2 separate regions of the Homo sapiens genome follow, and region 1 is linked to region 2. Evidence: fine-mapped expression QTL. A gene starts in region 2. The other region holds a variant in brackets. All regions are shown on one strand. Distances are between the middles of the regions.

Evidence for each region. PIP is the estimated chance that this variant, and not a neighbour inherited with it, causes the effect. A credible set is the group of variants that fine-mapping cannot tell apart.
Region 1: its variant is the best candidate, but not a certain one, in a credible set for the expression of MIR4432HG in whole blood (TOPMed, PIP 0.81).

What each region holds. Positions count from the first base shown.
Region 1 is chr2:60,336,738-60,346,305 of GRCh38, forward strand. No RefSeq gene overlaps it. Among named protein-coding and RNA genes, the nearest start is that of MIR4432, 46 kb to the right of the region's middle. RefSeq lists an enhancer at 258-447. The variant T/A (reference allele first, on the strand shown) is at 4,664.
Region 2 is chr2:60,387,472-60,397,039 of GRCh38, forward strand. It overlaps MIR4432HG (MIR4432 host gene), which reads right to left and starts at 3,904. Exons shown (of 2, transcript NR_132992.1): 1 at 3,835-3,904. It overlaps LOC102724142 (a long non-coding RNA gene), which reads right to left. Exons shown (of 2, transcript XR_007086327.1): 2 at 7,352-9,345.

The DNA of each region.
Region 1 (9,568 bases), 51 kb before region 2:
CGTACACAACCTGAATGAGGTTACTTAGCCCTGACAGCTTTCTCTGGGGAGCAATTAGAGCCTTTAAGATCTTACCTATGCTTCACCAGAAGTCTTCTCATTAAATAGTTACTTCAAATGTTCCCAGGGCTGAAAACATTAAGATTTAAAGGGAACAATTGACTGCTTTTTTTCCATGCCAAATCAGACCGTTGTTTAACATGGTGAGAGCTACCACTGAGGTTACTGAAGTAGAAAAAGGGGGTTATATGTTGCTGGAGAACAGAAACTTAGCAGGGAAATTAAAAACAAGACAGGCTCTGGGACCAAGTAAGTCAAAGTGATGTCTTCAAGGAATCAGGCTTTGCAGAGGTCCTGCGGCCCAAAAGTCAGACCCTCAATACCCTCCAGGGCTTCCAAAGCAACTCTGTTCTGCATCCCATCTCACAAAATAATTGGGAGCTACCAGCAAGATGCCTGCCACGAGAGGGCAGCTTCCTGGAGGGGGGCCCTTGAAGGATGGCGAGCCCAGCAAGGACAAAGCGTGGCAGGGTGAAGAGCAGTGTTTGAGACAGCAGGGCCCATCTGAGCCTGGAAGCTTGTTTTGAAGCAGAAGCTGAAGTTCTCCTTTCTGACCATGCCCCACCCTGCCGAGAGAACCTTGCCCTTCATGGGAAAGTGATTTGGGGAGCACCAAAGTCATCTGTGTCTTAGTTGTGTGGGGCATTGAGCTGTCTTGGAATTGTGACTCATCCACTCATGCATTGTGGTTTAACATAGGGTTCCAATGTATTAAAATTTATTCATAATTTCTAAATGGTATCAGGTCAGATTCGAAGATGAAAATAAACATCATCTCCTTCAAAGTTGAAGTCAATTAACCCAGGACAGGAAGAAGACTTCTAAGTGAGCAAAGAAAGAGGAACACATTTGTTTGGTGTCCAGCTCAGGATACATGGAAAACATTCCTTGGTTCCTTTTAGTGCGCATGGGCTTCTGTTTCCCAGAACTGTCCCAGAAAGATGTCTTCACTTTTCTAAGCTGCAAGTATACATAAGCATCAGGATAAGTCAGTAATTAAATCCCTACACAAAGCAAACTCAGATTTTTTTTTGCGTGTGTGTGTTCTTCATAATTTCCCATGTAGGCCTTGTTCTCTTGGCAGGGTGGAGCCCTGTTAAAAAGACCAAGCTGACATAAGCTTGCCTTCTAGCTTCCTGGGCTCCTTCTAGTTTCCTGGGAGCTGGACCCTATGCCCAGCACTCCCCCTTGCCATTCCCCAGTTGACATTGCCATGGTTGGTGATCACTTCATGACAGAAGCCACCTTCCTAGGCATCATTCTTTCCAGGGTCCCTGGAAGGTTATCTAGGCCTTTTGTTCTGAATAAGACTTCGAATTTTCATCAGACCTTCTGTACACATCTCCTACAGGGAACTTTGGCTCTATCTTTGCCAATCCTTTCTATAATGGGGGAAAATCTCATGATAGCATTCTTGCCTCCCCATTGTAGTCACAACTCAAACTGCCAGCCTCTCTTGCAGTTAGAATGCAGGCCTGTGACATAGTTCTGTCTTTGTACACACCTGCATAAGATTTTGCTTTAGAAATGAAGTGAGCAGTGTAAGGAACTGGGCTCAGCAAGGGAATCCCTTCGCTGACACGGTAGCATCAGTTCTTGGGAAGCAGCAGTGCACAGGGTAGAAATGACAAGTTCTTATCATTGAGTTCTCAGTAGCTGCAATGGTGGTTTCATCTTCAGGCCAGTTCTACAGTGCGGTTGGGGCACTTTTTCTGGAAACTTAACCTGGAATTTGCTTTCCCTGCCCCTCAACTCCTAATGATCCCAAATATTCAATAGATCCATTTTATTCTTGAAACAGGTGTTGCCGTTGTCTGTAACCAAGAATGTTGACAGTGGGCATTTCAGGAGCTGAGGGCATTTCGGGGGATCACTCTTCTCCTGGTCTTCAGTGACAGGGTGGGAGGCAAGGATCATCCCTTCCTGGGGATATAGAAAATTCATTCATTCACTCAATATATAGCAAACTTGTGAGTTAGGAGCAATCCTTTCTGAGAATCAGTGATGTCTGCAGATGTAAATTCCTTTGACACCCACATAAAGCTATAGCATAGAGGAGCTTCAAAACACACAGGCTTAAGCTTCCACACACACCCCTTTGCCCTCCTTCCCTGGCCCTCTCTTGATCTTTACTTCAATCCTCTCCAGGCAACCAGATCTCTCAGACCCTTCTCCTCCACTAACCTCAACCAAATTTGAAATCAACCTCTTTAAGGTTTAATGACCAAAATGGCTTGGAATGTTATCCTTTGCCAGAAGTATTTGTATGATACAGGAACTAGAGCCTTGGACTAAAAGGACAATGTCTCCTAGTGAAATTTCAGGCATCAGCCAGTCAATAAAGAAAATTTGTGTTTGATTTGCTTCAATTTTCATCTATTTGTTTGTTTTTACCAATGAGGATTTCCCTGGGAGACTACAAAGCTGTCATCTAGGAAGAAAGGACTCAACATTTGTGGGCCATCTACATATATGCAGGTGGTGTGAAGGATGCTTTTTCCAACATGACCACACTTACCCTGGCCCTCACCATTCCAGCCACACTGGCCACCTCGCTGCTCCTCCAACATGACACATGCTCTCTGGCCTGGGCCTTTGCACTGACCAGTCCCTCTGCCTGCAGCACCCTTTCCCCAAAGATCTCCATGGCCCACTTCTTTATCTTCAGGTATCTGCTCAAATGTCTGCAAGTAGACACACCTTCCCTGACCACCTGCCCTCCACCCATCATGCTTGGTATTCTCACTCCCCCAACTCTGCTTTATTAGTTCCCCACATCACTAATCGCCACATGGCATACTTACTTAGTAATTCACTGTCCAGCTGCTCCCAGCCCCAACCACCACCACTAGAAGATCAGTTCTAAACAGGCAGGGATTTTGTGTTTGCTCACTGCTCCTCTCCCCAGCACCTAGATCAATTATCAACACAGAGTAAGTGCTCAACAAAATCTGTTGACTAAATTAAACTCATACAGAATGATGCAAATATCATTCTAACTTTCAGAAAAATAGCGATGTTTAGAAAAATTAAATTGTTCAAGGTTCATTAATCCATTAAGCCTTGCACCCAAACCTGAATCTGTGCAGCAAGAAAGACCGAGCTTCCTCACCCCTTCCTCCCTAGGCAAGTTAATCAGAGGGAGTATTCAGGGTCATGCCCTCAGCTCCTCAGTGGCCATCCAACCCCTTCCTGATGGGTAACACTTGCATAGCTTAAGGTAACATCAGTTTCTACAACTGGTAAACCTTCATATATAAGTGGGTTAACCCAATAAAAGAGTGTGATACAGGTATGCTTGGTAGGAACATTCTCCTCCAAGTGGTGAATCAGGGACCCAGGCTCTTTCTGATTTATGGATCAACTACCTTCAACACATGGCTCTCAAGGTGGTCCTGGAAATCACTTCCATTCTAGCCATGGAATGAGCATGAAGATCACCTAAGGGGGTAGAGGAGAAACACTTCTACTCACATGACATTGGCCAGCTCTCAGTCACATGGCTACACCCAACTGCAAGGGAGTCTGGGAAATATAGTGTGGCCATGAGCCCAAGAAGAGGAGAAAAGAGGTGTGGTGATAAATAACCAGTCTCAGAGGATCCCCTGTCATCTTCTATTAGTAACCTAGGTTTTAGAGTAGGCCAACTGCTGAATGGAAAGGTACCAGGAAAGTGTTTAACCACCTAGACCTGGAATTCAAGCAATCTTGGGCTCATGTTCCAGGCTCACCATTGACTAGATACTTAACCTTAGTCTAGGTACTTACCTGTCTGAGTCTCAGTTTCCTCAGCTATAAAATAGGGACAGTACTAGTAACTACCTCATTGGGTTGTGGTGAGGAACAGCTGAGATCATGCCTGTTGGGTATGTAGCAGTCCTGACCAGAACTGTTATGAGGGAAAAGATGCTCCAAAAAGGGGTCCCAGCTTCCTCCCCCAGTGCTCTTACATCCCAGCAGGCCAGCAATTCAGAGAGCCACTCTGGGTCTCAAAGCTTAAATGAGACAAGGTTTGTCCCCATTTGACAAATGACCTGTGAGTCCTCTCTGTTGCATCCTATTGATGGTTTCTGACAAATCCCACAGTATCAGTTTGCATAAGTAAGTTTGAAATGCCCTTTCCATTAACAGAGGAGCTCTGCTATTAACTAATTACACTTTGGCTTTTCCTGTGTAAGCCACCGTGCCAGGGAGAAGAGGCCAAGCGTGAGGTGGCCTCTGGTGTGGCAAGAAGGTTTGTGCAGACTGGGATGGGCAGGGGCTGGGGTGAACGTGGGGGCTGCTCCTTTCTGTCCTTTCCTTTCTATAAATCCAGTTATTGGGACAGTGACCTTTGGAGGAGTGGCTCCCAATTTCCCACACGAATGTTTTCAAAGGATTTGGGACAACTCCAGTTTTCAGAAAACTGCTGATATTCAGAAAAAGACTAAATGCACTGCTCAAGGTTACGAGAGTACCTGAATCCATTGTGAGGTGGGGTCCTGACAGAAGAGCACTGTTCTCAGAAGCTACAGCCTCCAACGTGGTTCTGACCCCAGGGCCGACACCTGCCAGGTCAGTCCCAGGCCTGACCGGGGAGCAGTGGTCTGCCTATTCTGTCTTC[T/A]GCCATGCCTTCCTCCATGTTGGTCAAGAAAAAATTTTAAAAGCCTAGGTTTTAGAGTGAGTCAGATGTGGGTTCAAATCCCAGCTCTGCCACTTACCTCCAGCAAGTTATACCCCGACTTGGAGTCTCAGCATGCTTGTGCGTTAAATGAGACCTAGCTCAAGGAGTTACCACAGGATTAACTGTGGAAAAGGGTAGCTCCGAGAAGAAACCAAGGAAACATTAGTAGGTAGGTGTTCCTACCCTACTCTCACCCTGAAATCACTCCCTTTTCTGTAAGCCTTGATGTCACCAAGCTGAAAATGCTTTTGAGGGATTGCCCCTCTCCAGTGTATTCTTACTGTAACAATAGATGCATTGGGTAGCTGACGGGTGAGGAGTTTGCCATGCCTTGAATATTGAGATTTAGACATCTCTGTAACACTGACGGGTGGGCCCGACAGAAATCCATTTAATTGGTTCTGAAGAGCCTCTTGGGGGGCAACTGCAAGTGAGAGAAGGAGTCACAGATTATGAGCTTTATCCAATAGAAAGCTTTTGACATAGGAAAGGAATTGGGATTTTGAGTTAGGATCACTCAAATCTATTCCTATCCCAGCTGCATAGATCGGCATCTAGTTACTGGAAATAGAAAGTAAATAAATAAAAACAAAAAGAACGAGCTCCACTTCCATTTAGGTTGCCAAAAATTGCTGAAGACTTGCTCCCATCCTAACAATGAGAATGAACCAGGTAAGCTACAATATCACAATTGTTTAAAACCTATCAGAGAGCTTCAGATGCAAAGAAGTGAAATGAACTAAATTTCAGAAAGTGAAGATTCCTTCCTAGCAAGAAGAGAGACATTTTCATCACTGGGAAGGAGCAGAGAAAGATGAATCTGCCATGGATAGGGGTAAGGAGAAACCACCAAACTTTTTTTTTAATTAATTTTGTTTTTTTAAATTTATTTATTTTATTTATTTATTTTTTTATTTTTTGAGACAGAGTCCTGCTCTGTCGCCCAGACCGGAGTGTAGTGGCACAATCTCGGCTCACTGCAACCTCTGCCTCCGGGTTCAAGCGATTATCTTTCTCAGCCTCCCGAGTAGCTGGGATTACAGGTGCCTGCCACCATGCCCAGCTAATTTTTGTATTTTTAGCAGAGACAGGGTTTCACCATGTTGTCCAGGCTGTTCTCAAACTCCTGGCCTCAGGTGATCTGCCTGCCTCGGCCTCCCAAAGTGCTGAGATTATAGACATGAGCCACCGCACCCAGCCCCACCAAACTTTTAATAGAATTGCAGCAGTGAGTGGGTTGGCATGGCAGATTAAGACCCTGGGGAGTGTGTGTCTGTACCAGTCCACAACCCTCTGCTATTGTTCTTATCTAGTGCACAGGGCCAGTATGCTGTAGGGCTAGGGATGGTAGATTACCCTGAGATATCCAGGGCCTTCTCCAAGTGCAACGCCGAAGCTGGGGTAGGGCAGGAGGTCCAAGAGAAATCCCTCTGAGGCACCCGTGGCCTCCACTGAGCGCACTGCTACCGTCCTCCAAAGACGCAAGCAGGACCACTGGGTGGAGAACTCTCAAGAGGCAGACATTTGGGGGCAACGCTGGAGGGCAAAGAGAACACTCCAGTGGGAAAAAGAAGAATAAAAGCTGGCAGCTATGTTGTAAAGCATAAAGAATTTTCTAGAATCTCACCAGTGTTCAGATCCCAAACTCTGCTGAAGGGAAAGCCATGACCCTTTCTTCAAATTGTTTGAAGCCAGTTGCAAAATAAGTCTAAGAAAAAAAGTGGAATGTTAACAAGGAAAATGTATTTTTTCTTCTTTTTTTTGAGATAGCAGCCAAGTACTTTCCAAAATCAACCCATGGATCCAGGAAGCTCAGTGAACCCAAATAGATAAATACAAGGAAAACCATACCTAGACATCACACACACACACACACACACACACACACAGACACACACACAATATGTATATTTCCAACTTCTGTAGAAAAAAAAGACTCACTGTTAAAAGCAAAAATGATAATATATTATGGAGTTTATAGCATAAATAGAAGTAAAATATATGAAAACAATAGCATAAAGGGCAAGAAGCAGGTGAATGTAATTATATTGCTGTTTCTTGCATTGCCATTCATTAGGAATGTATTTGAAAGTAAACTGTGATAACTTAAAATACACAGTCTAATTTCTAAAGAGCAAACACTATAAAAATAATACAAAAAGTATAGCTACAAAGTCAATAAAGAAGACAAAATAGAGTAATAAAAAAATACTTGATTTACCCTAAAAGAATACAGGAAAAAAATGAAGCAACGTACAATGAATAGATATGACAAATACCGGAATGATAAACTTAAACCCAATCATAAATGTTATTGTAGTAAATGTAAATAGATTAAATACATCAACTGTTTAAGGCAGAAATTGTCAGATTGAATAGAAAAGCAAGACTTACCTATATGCAATTTAAAAGTAACATGTTAATTATTAATATAAAAACAGAGATAAAAGAAGATAGATTGGGCTGGGCATGGTGACTCATGCCTGTAATCCCAGAACTTTGGGAGGCTGAGGCAGGTGGATCACTTGAGGTGAGGAGTTTGAGACCAGCCTGGCCAACATGATGAAACCCCATCTCTACTAAAAATACAAAAAAATTAGCTGGGCATGGTGGCGTGCACCTGTAGTCTCAGCTACTTGGGAAGGTGAGACAGGAGAATCACTTGAACTCAGCAGGCAGAAGTTGCGGTAAGCTGAGATCGCACCACTACACTCCTGCCTGGGCAACAGAGTGAAACTCTGTCTCAACAAAAAAAGATGAAGAAGAAGACGAAGAAGAAGCAGAAGAAGCAGAAGGAGGAGAAGGAGGAGAAGGAGGAGGAAGAAGAGAAGGAGGAGGAGAAAGATTGATTGAAAGGAAAATATTAGAAAAAGATGTTCCATGCAAACAATAAACATGAGAAAACTGGGGGCTATATTAAAATCAGACAAAGTGGATTTTAAGACAACAAATATTACCAGAGATAAGGTGAGTATTTTGTCATTTTTTAAAGATCAATTTATGTAGAAGACCTAATCATTATAAATGTATATATATATATTCATAACAAAGTTTCCAAATTCGAAAAGAAGAAATTGACAGAACTAAAGAGAAAAATAGAGAAATTCACATTCATACTTGGAGACTATAACACCTCTCTCTCTCAGCAAATGATATAACAAATAAACCCCAAAAAAATCAGTAAGGATATAAAAGGATTGAAATACCACTTTTAACCAATTTGACATTTATAAAAAACTATAGCCAAAATCTGCAAATACTCATTATTTTCAATTGCACCTAAAATATTCACCAAGACAGATTACATGCTGAGCCACAAAACAAATCTAAAAAAAACAAAGGTTCAAAATCATATCAAAGGATCAAAATAATATTCTCTGATTGCAATAGAAATTAGATATCAATTATAATTAGATATCTAGAAAATCTTGTAATATTTCAAAATTTAAGTAACCACTTCTATATAACCCATCAGTCAAAGAAGAAAAAAAAAAAAGGGAAATTAGAAAATATTTCCAACTGAAGAATAAAAAACATACAACATAAGAAAATTTGTAGGATGCAGATAAATCTGGACTTAGAGGAAAATTAGGGCTTTAAATGTCTATATTAGAAAAAAGGACTGAATCAAAGACCTAAATTTTCACCTTAAGAAGCAAAAAAAGGTCAGGCACGATGGCTCATGCCTGTAATTCCAGCACTCTGGGAGGCTGAAGAGGGAGAATTTTTTGAGGCCAGGAGTTCGAGACCAGCCTAGCCAGCATAGTAAGACCCCATCTCAACTGAAAAATAAAAAATTATCTGGGTGTGATGGCACACACTTTTAGTCCTAGCTACTTGGGAGGTTAAGGCAGGAGGATCACTTGAGCTCAGGAGGTAGAGGCTGCAGTGAGCTGTGCTCATGCCCCTGCACTCTAATCTGAGTAACAGAGCAACAACTCAATTCAAAAAAAAAAATGAAGCAAGAAAAAAATAACAAATTCAAGGCAACATTAAGTAGAAGAAAACAAATAATAAAATTTAATAGCAGAAATAAATACATCAGAAAATAGACAAAAAAGTTAAAAGTTGGATACTTGAAAAAATTAATAGAACTGATCAATTTTTGGCAAAATCGAGCAAGAGGAAAAAACACAAATCACCAAAAGCAGGAGTAAAAGAAGAGACATCACTGCAAATTTTAAAGATATTAAAAGAATAATAAGAAGATTTTATAAACAAGTGGATGCCAAAATATCAACAATTTATACAAGATGGAAACATTTGTTGAAAAATAAAATGTACCGGAACTGAAGTAAGAAGAAATAAATCTAAATGGTCCTATGTCTGTTAAGAAATTAAACTCATAATAAACTACCTACCAAGAAAAACTATCCAGGCTCAGACAGCTTCACCAATAAATTATGTAAATATTTAAGGAAGAATTTATACCAATCTTAGATAAGCACTTTCAAAAGTTAGAAGAGGGAACATGTCACCAGTTGTTACATGACATTCATATAACTCTGATACCAAAACCTAACAAAAACATTGTGTAAGGAAATTATATCCATTCTTACCCCTTTTATTCAGTATTATACTAGAAGTCATAGCCAGTGAAATAAGCCCAAAAAAAAAAAAGAGAGAAAGAAATATAACACATGAATACCAGAAAATAATTTAAACCATTGTTATTTGCAGATAATATGATCACATATGTAGAAAACCTTACGGAATCAATTTAGCAAGACCAAAATTTTAAAAGTAATTTAATTTTTATGCAGTACCAATAAAAAAATGGACAATAATTTTTGTATCCCATTTACAATATCATCAAAAAACATTCAACATTTAGAAATAAAAATA
Region 2 (9,568 bases):
CTCAGTTATAGACTGTTCTGGCCATAATCCACCAAACAAGGGGGTAATTCATAGGCTGCAAACAGGCCAAAAAGGTGGCCCAGTGTGAACATTAGGGCCCCACATGCCCAGTAGGGCTGCCCAAAACTAGATAACACCTGGCAGAGCCAATCAGATCTTCTATTGGGACATCTGACTGAGACATGGGGAGCTGTCGTCAAAGAGTAATGGTACATGTGACAGAACAGAAAAGAGTAGCCAGCACTCCAACTCCCCAACACGAGAGTGGACAAAAATGGACTTACATTTGTGGGGCAAAGCCCCTGTTAATAACAAGTATTCATAATAACAGTGTCCATGGAGCCACAGTTGACAACAATACTCATTGAGCATAACTTTTTGCCTGGCACTGTTAGGTCCTTGTGCACAGGATCTCACCGAAACTTGACAAGGAACCCCACATGGTCAGTGCTATTATTGTCACCACTGTATAGATGGTAGGAAACTGAGGCTAGAGAGGTGACACAGTGGTAAAGGGCAGAGTTGCAATGTGAACCCAGCAGTTTGATTATGGAACATGGGGTTTTATTTACTAGATTACACAAACTCCTGTCAAATCCTATATGGCCATGGACGATACTCCAGTTCTCGGTGAAGCCCAGCTGTGACTGCTGAGAAGATTTACTGTTCTTCCCCACCTCCCAGGGTGTCCTTCCAATAATCCTCCATCACCTAAAGCAATGGGATTACGCCATAGTCCCCTTAAACTGCAAGCATCTAACTAATACAGGGACACAAGTGTTCCAGAGAAGTGGCTAGTAACAGCAAAGAATGACAGACCCTCCAAATGAGGTTTGGTGGCTCCCTTTTACCCTTCTGAATCTTAAAGGAAGAAACACAAGCTGAGACATTCTGGACAGGTGGCTGGTGCTGGTGAAGTTGACCTCTTCATTTCCATCTTCAGGTCATTACAAGGGCCTTCCCTGAAGCCAACTAAATCCTTGGACAGAGAGGACCTGAGGCTGGTATTGCCCTGTGCTGCACAGTAGACAGCTCTTCTCCTGAGGAAGGGCTGCTGGCAAGGAGGGGCCAGTGACCCAGACCCAGTTAGTCAGACCCTCCCTAGTACAGTCTGCTGATGTCATTGAAGAAGGCCATGTCCTCTCATCTCAGCTGCTGGCCTATGAGCCTGGGGCTGCCTGCCTCATGGAAAGTGATAGGGGAGAGGGAGATAGAACAATCTGGGCCAGGCGCGGTGACTCACGCCTGTAATCCCAGCACTTTGAGAAGCTGAGGCAGATGGATCACTTGAGGTCATGAGTTCGAGACCAGCCTGACCAACATGGTGAAACCCCGTCTCTACTACAAATACCAAAATTTGCCGGGCATGGTGGCGCATGCCTGTAATCCAGCTACTAGGGAGGCTGAGGCAGGAGAATCACTTGAACCTGGGAGTCAGAAGTTGCAATGAGCTGAGATCGTGCCACTACACTCCAGCCTGGGCCACAGAATGAGACTCCATCTCAAAAAGAAAAGAAAAGAAGAGGAAAGGAGAAGAGAGGAGAGGAGAGAAGAGAGAAGAGAGGAAAGGAAAGGAAAGGAAAGGAAAGGAAAGGAAAGGAAAGGAAAGGAAAGGAAAGGAAAGGAAAGGAAAGGAAAGGAAAGGAAAGGAAAGGAAAGGAAAGGAAAGGAAAGGAAAGGAAAGGAAAGGAAAGGAAAGGAAAGGAAAGGAAAGGAAAGGAAACGAAACGAAAGGAAAGGAAAGGGGAGAGCTGTGGTGGCCCTCGTGCAGGACAGGAGATGAGGCAGTTGTGTGGCCAACCTGTAAAAGGAAAACACTTCCCACCTACTGCAAGGTGACTCAAGGTGGAGGTGCCAAAATTAGGGGAAAAGGCTTCCAGCCAAGCACAGAGGAAGGGTATGAAAGAACTTTCTAATAGCCTCAAAGCAAGATCACATGAAGATTCTGCAAGACTGCACGACATTTTTCTTTTTTCTTTTTTCTTTTTTTTTTTTTTTTGGAGACAGGGCCTCACTCTGTCACACAGACTGGAGTACAGTGGCACAATCACAGCTCCCTACAGCCTCAACCTCCCAGCCTCAAGCAATCCTGCCAGCTCAGCCTCCCAAGCAGCTAGGACCACAATGTATGTGCCATTATGCCTAATTTTTCTATTTCTTTTAGAGTCAGAGTGTCCCCACATTGCCCAGGCCAGTCTGGAACTCCTAATCTCAAGTGATCCACCCACCTTGGCCTCCCAAAGTGCTGGGATTACAGGTGTGAGCCACATAGCCCAGCCACAACATTTTTCCAGAAGACAAATGGACTAACCTCATATTGATCCTGGGACTATGAAAATAGGGCAGCCGGCAAGACTTGAGCCAAATATATAGACTCTACTTCATAAATGAAAACCTCCAAAAAGTCCAAATTTAGTATTTTTCATGCTCATGCAAAGGACAAGCTTCCTCCTCCATTGAAAGGAAAGGAAGGGAGAAGATTTACTACAGGGTGGCCAGAGCTTTTCCCTGGAATGGCCCAAAGTTGCTTCTCTGTCCCCAGACAACTTGGGTTTGAGCTCTAGGGGACCATATATAATATTTTCTAGGTCCCTGTGAGTACACCCTTGATGTACTGGAGACGGGAGGTCAGATTTGATTTACATTCACAGGCAAAATTGAAGTTAGAACTCACCCCAACTCAGCGGAAAGGAGACTGCGGGACAGTGAGGACTCAAGGAGTAACTGTGAGGCAGCTTAAGTGAACTTCACTCAGGGCACAGTAGGTTTTCTTGTTCTAAGTAAATATCTTAACAGTTTCCAGTTTTACAAATTTAAAAACAGCTAAAAATATGCACACTTATATTTTCTAGTTTTTGCAGATGATGCTGAGGCAAGTTAAGAGGGAACATGCTAACCACCAAAACCATCCTCATTTTCATGACTAGGTGGACAGGGAGGAACCGAGGCTTGTACTGCCCTGTGTTGCATAGTAGATAGCTCCTCTCCTGAGGCAGGGCTGCTAATGACCCAGGCCCAGTTAGCCAGACCCTCCCTGGTATAGTCTGCTGATGTCATTGAAAAAGGACATGACTTCTTATCTCAGCTGCTGGCCTGTGAGCTGGGGCTTCCTGCCTCACGGAAGGTGAGAGAGGGAGAGGGAGACAGAACCCTGGCAACCTGGGACGGGCACAGTGGCTCACACCTGTAATCCCAGCACTTTGGGAAGCCAAGGTGGGTGGATCACCTGAGGTCAGGAGTTCAAGACCAGCCGGGCCAACATGGTGAAACCCCGTCTCTGCTAAAAATACAAAAATTAGCCGGGCATAGTGGCACACGCCTGTAATCCAGCTACTTGGGAGGCTGAGGCAGGAAAATCCCATGAACCCAGGAGGCAGAGGTTGCAGTGAGCCAAGATTGCACCACTGAACTGGGAAACAGAGCGAGACTCCGTCTCAAAAAAAAAAAAAACCCTGACAACCTGGTGCCAACCCCTGGATCCAGCTGTTCCTGTATCCCATATTCCTCTGCACTTCCCAGTTACATGAGCCAATTATTCCCTTTTTGTTTATTATTAGTTTGAGTGTCTGTCACTTGTAACTTAAATAAGCCTGCCTACAAATTCTAGCCAAGGCATTCATCTTCTGGCAAGCCTCTATAAAGAACCTGTAGGTGCTGCTTTTGAACACGAAACTCCCTGCTTCATTTGATCACTGACTACCAGAGAATGCAAACTCTTGGACAACATGAGCACAGCAAGTATTTTATCCTCAGTCCCTCCCCTTCCTCTGACTGTCAGCCTTCAAACCCAATGCCAATCCCATCCCCACTTCCCCCTGACTCCACCATCATTACCATTGTCTCCCTTCTTCGTCTTTGTCAAAGTACCTCACCAGTGAAAGAAAAGTGACCTCTGCTTCAAAAATGAATAACTGCCACGAATGCGGAGAGCCACAGCAAAGGAAACCACGCCTCCTTTGATAAATACCATGCAGCTGCTGCTTGGTGATGATGGTCTCGCCCTGGTGGAGCATTCTAGGGTCAGATGTTTACAGAGAAAAGGCAGGCAGGTGCCAGTGCTTGAACATCAGGCCAAATCCCAGGTTTCCCCAGCCGTCACTCATTCTCATGCACAAAGTAGAGGCCCTGCAATTGCTTCCTAAGACTCAGTTTCCTTATAGGTAAGCTGGAAAACATTTAGTATTAACAAGCACCAGAGCTATGTCAAAGGAGAATCATCCAAAACATTGCTGAGCCTTGACGAAGATGAACAGCACTCAGGGGAAGAATTCTAGGTGGATCTTTGGGTAATAGGAACCCTGAAAACAGCAATGATCCAGTAGGTGACATGTAGGGCGTGCCCCTCGCCTTCCTGGACTGGTGCTCAGCATTCCACTTGTATGATCTCATTTAATCCCCACAACACACCCATGCGGTGGGAAATAATTATCATCTCCACTTTACAGAGGAGGCTCCTGAGTCTTCAAGAGAATGTGAGACTTGTCCACAGTCACTCAGTAGTGCAGCCACAGTGACCTTGAAGTCAGGCCCGGTGTCTGGCCTTTGTGACCATGCCATCCCAGGGATGTAAAAGAACTCAACAGTTGCTCAGAATACCCCTTTTACCATCTCAACGACATGGGCAATCAAGGACTGCCTTGCTTCCTGCCGGGTTCCTGAGTGAATCAGTGGGCATGACTTTGAGAAACAGAAAGCTCTAAAAATCTTGGGTGTTATTACTGTCTAGGCAGTGCAGTCAGAGATGATGTTGATGGTGGTAGCCTGTTTTACTCATCTCACTCTCAGAGGATGCTAATCACATGGGTGGGAAATTTCATTAAACAACTGTCTCCTGGAGGCAGATGTTCATCCCAGAGCAGATTGGCATTCAGTCCCTTCCCCCCAGCTGGCCTGAAGAGCACTGGCAACGCAGGCCAGTGCTCCAGAGGTGCTGGGATGGAAGGTCCTGAGGTTAATCCTCTTCCAGCATTCACTATCCATGCACCCTCTAAGTTTCGCTTTCTCATCTGTGAATTTTCTCATCTGAGGAAGGGCTGCCGGCAGGAAGGGGCCAGTGATCCAAGCCCAGTTAGCCAAATCCTCCCGGTACAGTCTGCTGAAGTCATTGAAAAACCCCATGTCTTCTCATCTCAGCTGCTGGCCTGTGAGCCTGGGGCTGCCTGCCTCGTGGAAAGTGAGAGAGAGAGAGAGAGAGAGAGAGATAGAACTTTGGCAACCTGGGTTGGGCTAGGTTATAATAATACCTACTGTAGGTTATAATAATACCTGACTGTGAACTGGGAGCCATAATAATACCTACTATGGGTTTTCTAGGAGGTGAGAAGTTTGTCTTCTACTTTTTTTTGAAACTACAAAATACTTTAGACATCCAAAATGTAAGTATTAATATATAACCCACCAGCAGCTTAAGAGATAAAATGTTGTAACTGATGCACTCCTGCCCCAGTTCCATTCCTCTCCTTTCCTTACCAGAGGCAACCATTCCCCCAAGTCTGATATAGATCAAGACTTGGAAAACTTTCTGAAAAGGGCCAGATGGTAAGTAGTTGCACCTTTGCAGGCCACACGGTCTGTGGCAAGTATTCAACCCTGTCCTTGGAGTACAAAGGCAGCCATAGTTGATAAGTGAAAGAACAAGTGTGGTGGTGTTCCAGCAAATTTTATTTATGCACACTGGAATTTGAATTTCATATAATTTTCAGGTGTCACCAAAGAGTGTCCTTCTTTTGATTTTTTTTCAACTATTTAAAATTGTAAAACCCATTCTTAGCTCACAAGCCACGCAAAAGCAGGTGGTGGGCTGGACTTGGCCATGGGCATAATTTGCCAACCTTGGTATATATCATTCCCATGCATATTTTAATACTGAAACATAATATGTGTATATCCATATACAGTATTGTTTAGTGGGTCTTAAAATTTCATATAAATGGTATTATATGGTACTTTCACTTCTACAGCTGATCACTCTTTTTCAACATCAAATTTGCTGAGATTTAGGTGAGTTATTACATGTAACTTCAGTTAATTCATCTTAACTGCTGTATAGGAACTCACTATATGACTTTACCACAACTTATATGTAGGACTATTTATAGGATTTTACTATATGAATTCACTGCAACTTATTTATCCCTTCTCCTCTCAGTGGGCATTCAAGTTGTTCTACAGTTTTACAAATAAGGCTGCAAGAAGCACCTTCTGCATGTCTCCTTGTGCATGTGCACAAAAGCTGCTGTAGGATTGCTCTTCCTAGTAGAATTTCATGGTCACAGGAATGTTTGCTGATCACATAAAGCCAGGAAGGAAAGGGCTCATACCCAGCACCTTGTGTATCAATCACTGGCAGCTCCTGTTCCTCTGGAGCCCCCTCAAGCACCGGACAGAGGAATGAGCACATGTAAGTGCTTAATACACACTTTTTCACTTAATTCATAAAGACAGGGGGGCAGGGGGCAGGGGCAAAGGGAGGGAGAGCATTAGGACAAATACCTAATGCATGTGGGGCTTAAAAACTAGATGACAGGTTGGTACGTACAGCAAACCACCATGGTACGTGTATACCTATGTAAAAAACCTGCACGTTCTGCACATGTATCCCAGAAATTAAAGTAAAATTTAACAACTAAATAATAAAAATTAAAAATTAAAAAAGACCATCATGGAAAAAAATCTGTGGGACAAACAGTGGGACCTGTGAGTGATCAGGGAGAGAAAAACTCAGTTAGATGAAAATCTCCAAGAATGGCTTTTTAAAAAAGCAACATAGTTGAAGTTGGGAGGGATGGATGGAAAACAAATTCTTCTGATGAAGGCACTGACCTAAGTGGGCTCCGAGGTGGAAATGAACATGCCATGTGCAAGGAAATCCAGGAGACCAAGTAGGCTGGAACATTTGCAAAGTTCTTTTTGCAGGCATTGAATGCCAGGCAGGGGGCATGGGGCTTGACTTGCTGGTCAGTGGGAGCCCAGGAAAGGCCAGCCTAGGATGGCCAGGGCTACCCACTGAGTATGTTAACTCAGCTGGTCCTGTGTGGTGGAAGCTTGGGAGCAGAGCCTGAAATCACACACACCGTGAAAATAGTATGTTGGTGTTGTGGCTCTTCCAAGGCTGAGCCAAGCCTGATACAGCTTGGCCTTTTTTATACCGTATCTTTAAACCAATTTAACATTTTTGGCTCAGGCAGAAGTGGATATACTATTAGTCATTCAGCTAAGGCTGTGGAGGCTCACATTTCCCACTGTACACATAAGACAAACAATTATTGTTATTAAGGGAGAAAACTATGTTTGACATGAAATCAGAGAAAAAGAAAGAAGAACAAAGAAAATCAACAGCATCTCTCCATTCTTTCATTCAACATATGCATATTTATTAATCCCCTTTTGTGTGTGCCAGGTACAGCAGGGCCACGGGAATGTATAAAGCATGGCATGTACCATCCACCCAATGGGTTGAGAGAGCTACTGTTGTTTTCCAATAGTAATACAAAGCAGCATAGGGTAAGTGTCAGAACTAATCTTTTGAACAATTAACATAATAGAAGTTCAAGGGAATAAAGAAAGGCTAAGGAAAGCCTGGAAGAGGCACTTCCAGTTGGCTTTTTGAAGGACTTAGAGGCAGAGAGGGAACAGGAAGGAACCTCAAACAGACCGGGACGAGCAGCCATATGGCGGTGAAAATGAGCAAGACATATTTGGGCAGAGTGAAGCCCAGAACGGCATGCTCCTACACTCACTGTAACACAGCAGCACCCAGTGCTCCTGATTTGGGGATGCAGGCTGCCCCACACGTCAATATTCTCTCTTCCCCTAGCATCCTGGTGATACATCCTGTCCCCATCTTCCTCTCCCTCTTCCCAGACTCCTGTGGAGCCAGGCACCAGGGGTATGTTGGCTCTGTGGCTTGCTGGCCTTGTTACCTCAAGCAGATTGTGTAACCGCTCTGAAATTTCATTTATTTGACGGGTAAATGGAGTTGATCATGCCTCCACTCACCCAGCTGTTGTAAATATTGAAGGGATCGGCCACATTGGGTCACTCTGTAAGTAGGAAAGGATCCTTCCTGCAAACCTACGCCACCATCATGTCTACTGTGAAGTTTCTATATAAACATCTGGAGTACAGCCAGATGCAAAATCTGAAAGGATACCATCAAGCCATAAGCAAGAACACTTCATTTAAAATGGAAGCTCCAGCCACGGGTACTCTGACTTCTGCGATCCTGGCCCTCATCGCCACATCCCCCACAATGCCATGCAGACAAAAAGACTAGATAGGGCTGATGGATGGACATCCAGAGAGTTCCTGGCAATTGTTAAGGTTATGTCCAGAACTACCGCCATGCTGCTTTGCGTTTGGGCAGGACACCTTCTCTCTCTGGGTTAAATGTGAATGGCTCAGAAATACATGCTAGAAGTTCTCTCCAGGACCTTTCCCAGGTGGGGGTTAGAATCCTGGAAGACGGTGTCTTCAAAATGGAATTTCCACACCCTGAGTGCTGCACATGATGAACCACTGGGGTGTGGGGAGAAAGTATTAGAGCTTCTACCTTCAATTTTTCTAATATACAATTACATTCATTTTCAGTTGCCACCAAAATAAATTACCACAAACGTAGCAACTTAAAACAGTCCAAACATATCTCAGTTTCTGGGCCAGTTGAACTCAGTTGGATCCTCTGTTTAGTGTCTCAAAAGCCAAAATCAGGGTATCTGCAAGGCCTCACTTCCTCCTAAAGGTTCTGGGGAAGAATGCTCTTCTAGCTTGTCCAGGTTGCTGGCTGAATTCGGTTTCTTGTGGCTAGAGGACTGCTGTCTTTTCCTTGTGGCTGGCAGTCTTTGTTCCCAAAGGTTGCCTGTGTCCCTTCTCGTGCTTTCCAGGTGGGCTCCCCAGAAACAGTAGGTCGGGTCTTTCTCACACTTCCAATCTCTCCGACGACCTCTTTTGTCACATCTCTTTGACTCCAGCCAGAGAAAGCTCTCTGCATTTGAAGTCTCATGGGATTAGATTAGACACCTGGATAGTCCAGGGTACTCCCTCTAATTTAAGGTCTTTAACCTTAATCACGTCTGCAAAGTCCCTTTTGCCATAGAAGGTGACATGTTCAGTTTCCATGGATTCAAGCATAGTCACCTTTGGGGGGCATTCTGTCTACCACAATCCTCAAGGAAAAGGCTTTACACTCAATGACCGCTGTTGCTGTGGGACACAGGGTCAAGGTTACATATGATATCTGAGATGTCTTGAGGGAAAGGTGGGAATCTCACGACAAGGAGCAGTTGACAGTGACACCCTCACTTGCTGGTTTGCTTTTAGCACATAGTGACAGATGAAAACCTGTGCCTTCACAGTGGCCAAGAATCAGAAATGAGAGTCCAGTTAGTTCCCTTCTTCCATTCAGATTTATATGTCTCATATATCTTTCTCAGCTATAATCGCCCAAGTATTGAAAATCAGAGCCAGGCTTTTGACTCACTGTGCCACAAAGTATTATACCAAGATTTTTAAAAATAATCATGCCTATCCAATCCCATTGCTCTCACTAGAAATTTGATTAATAATAATA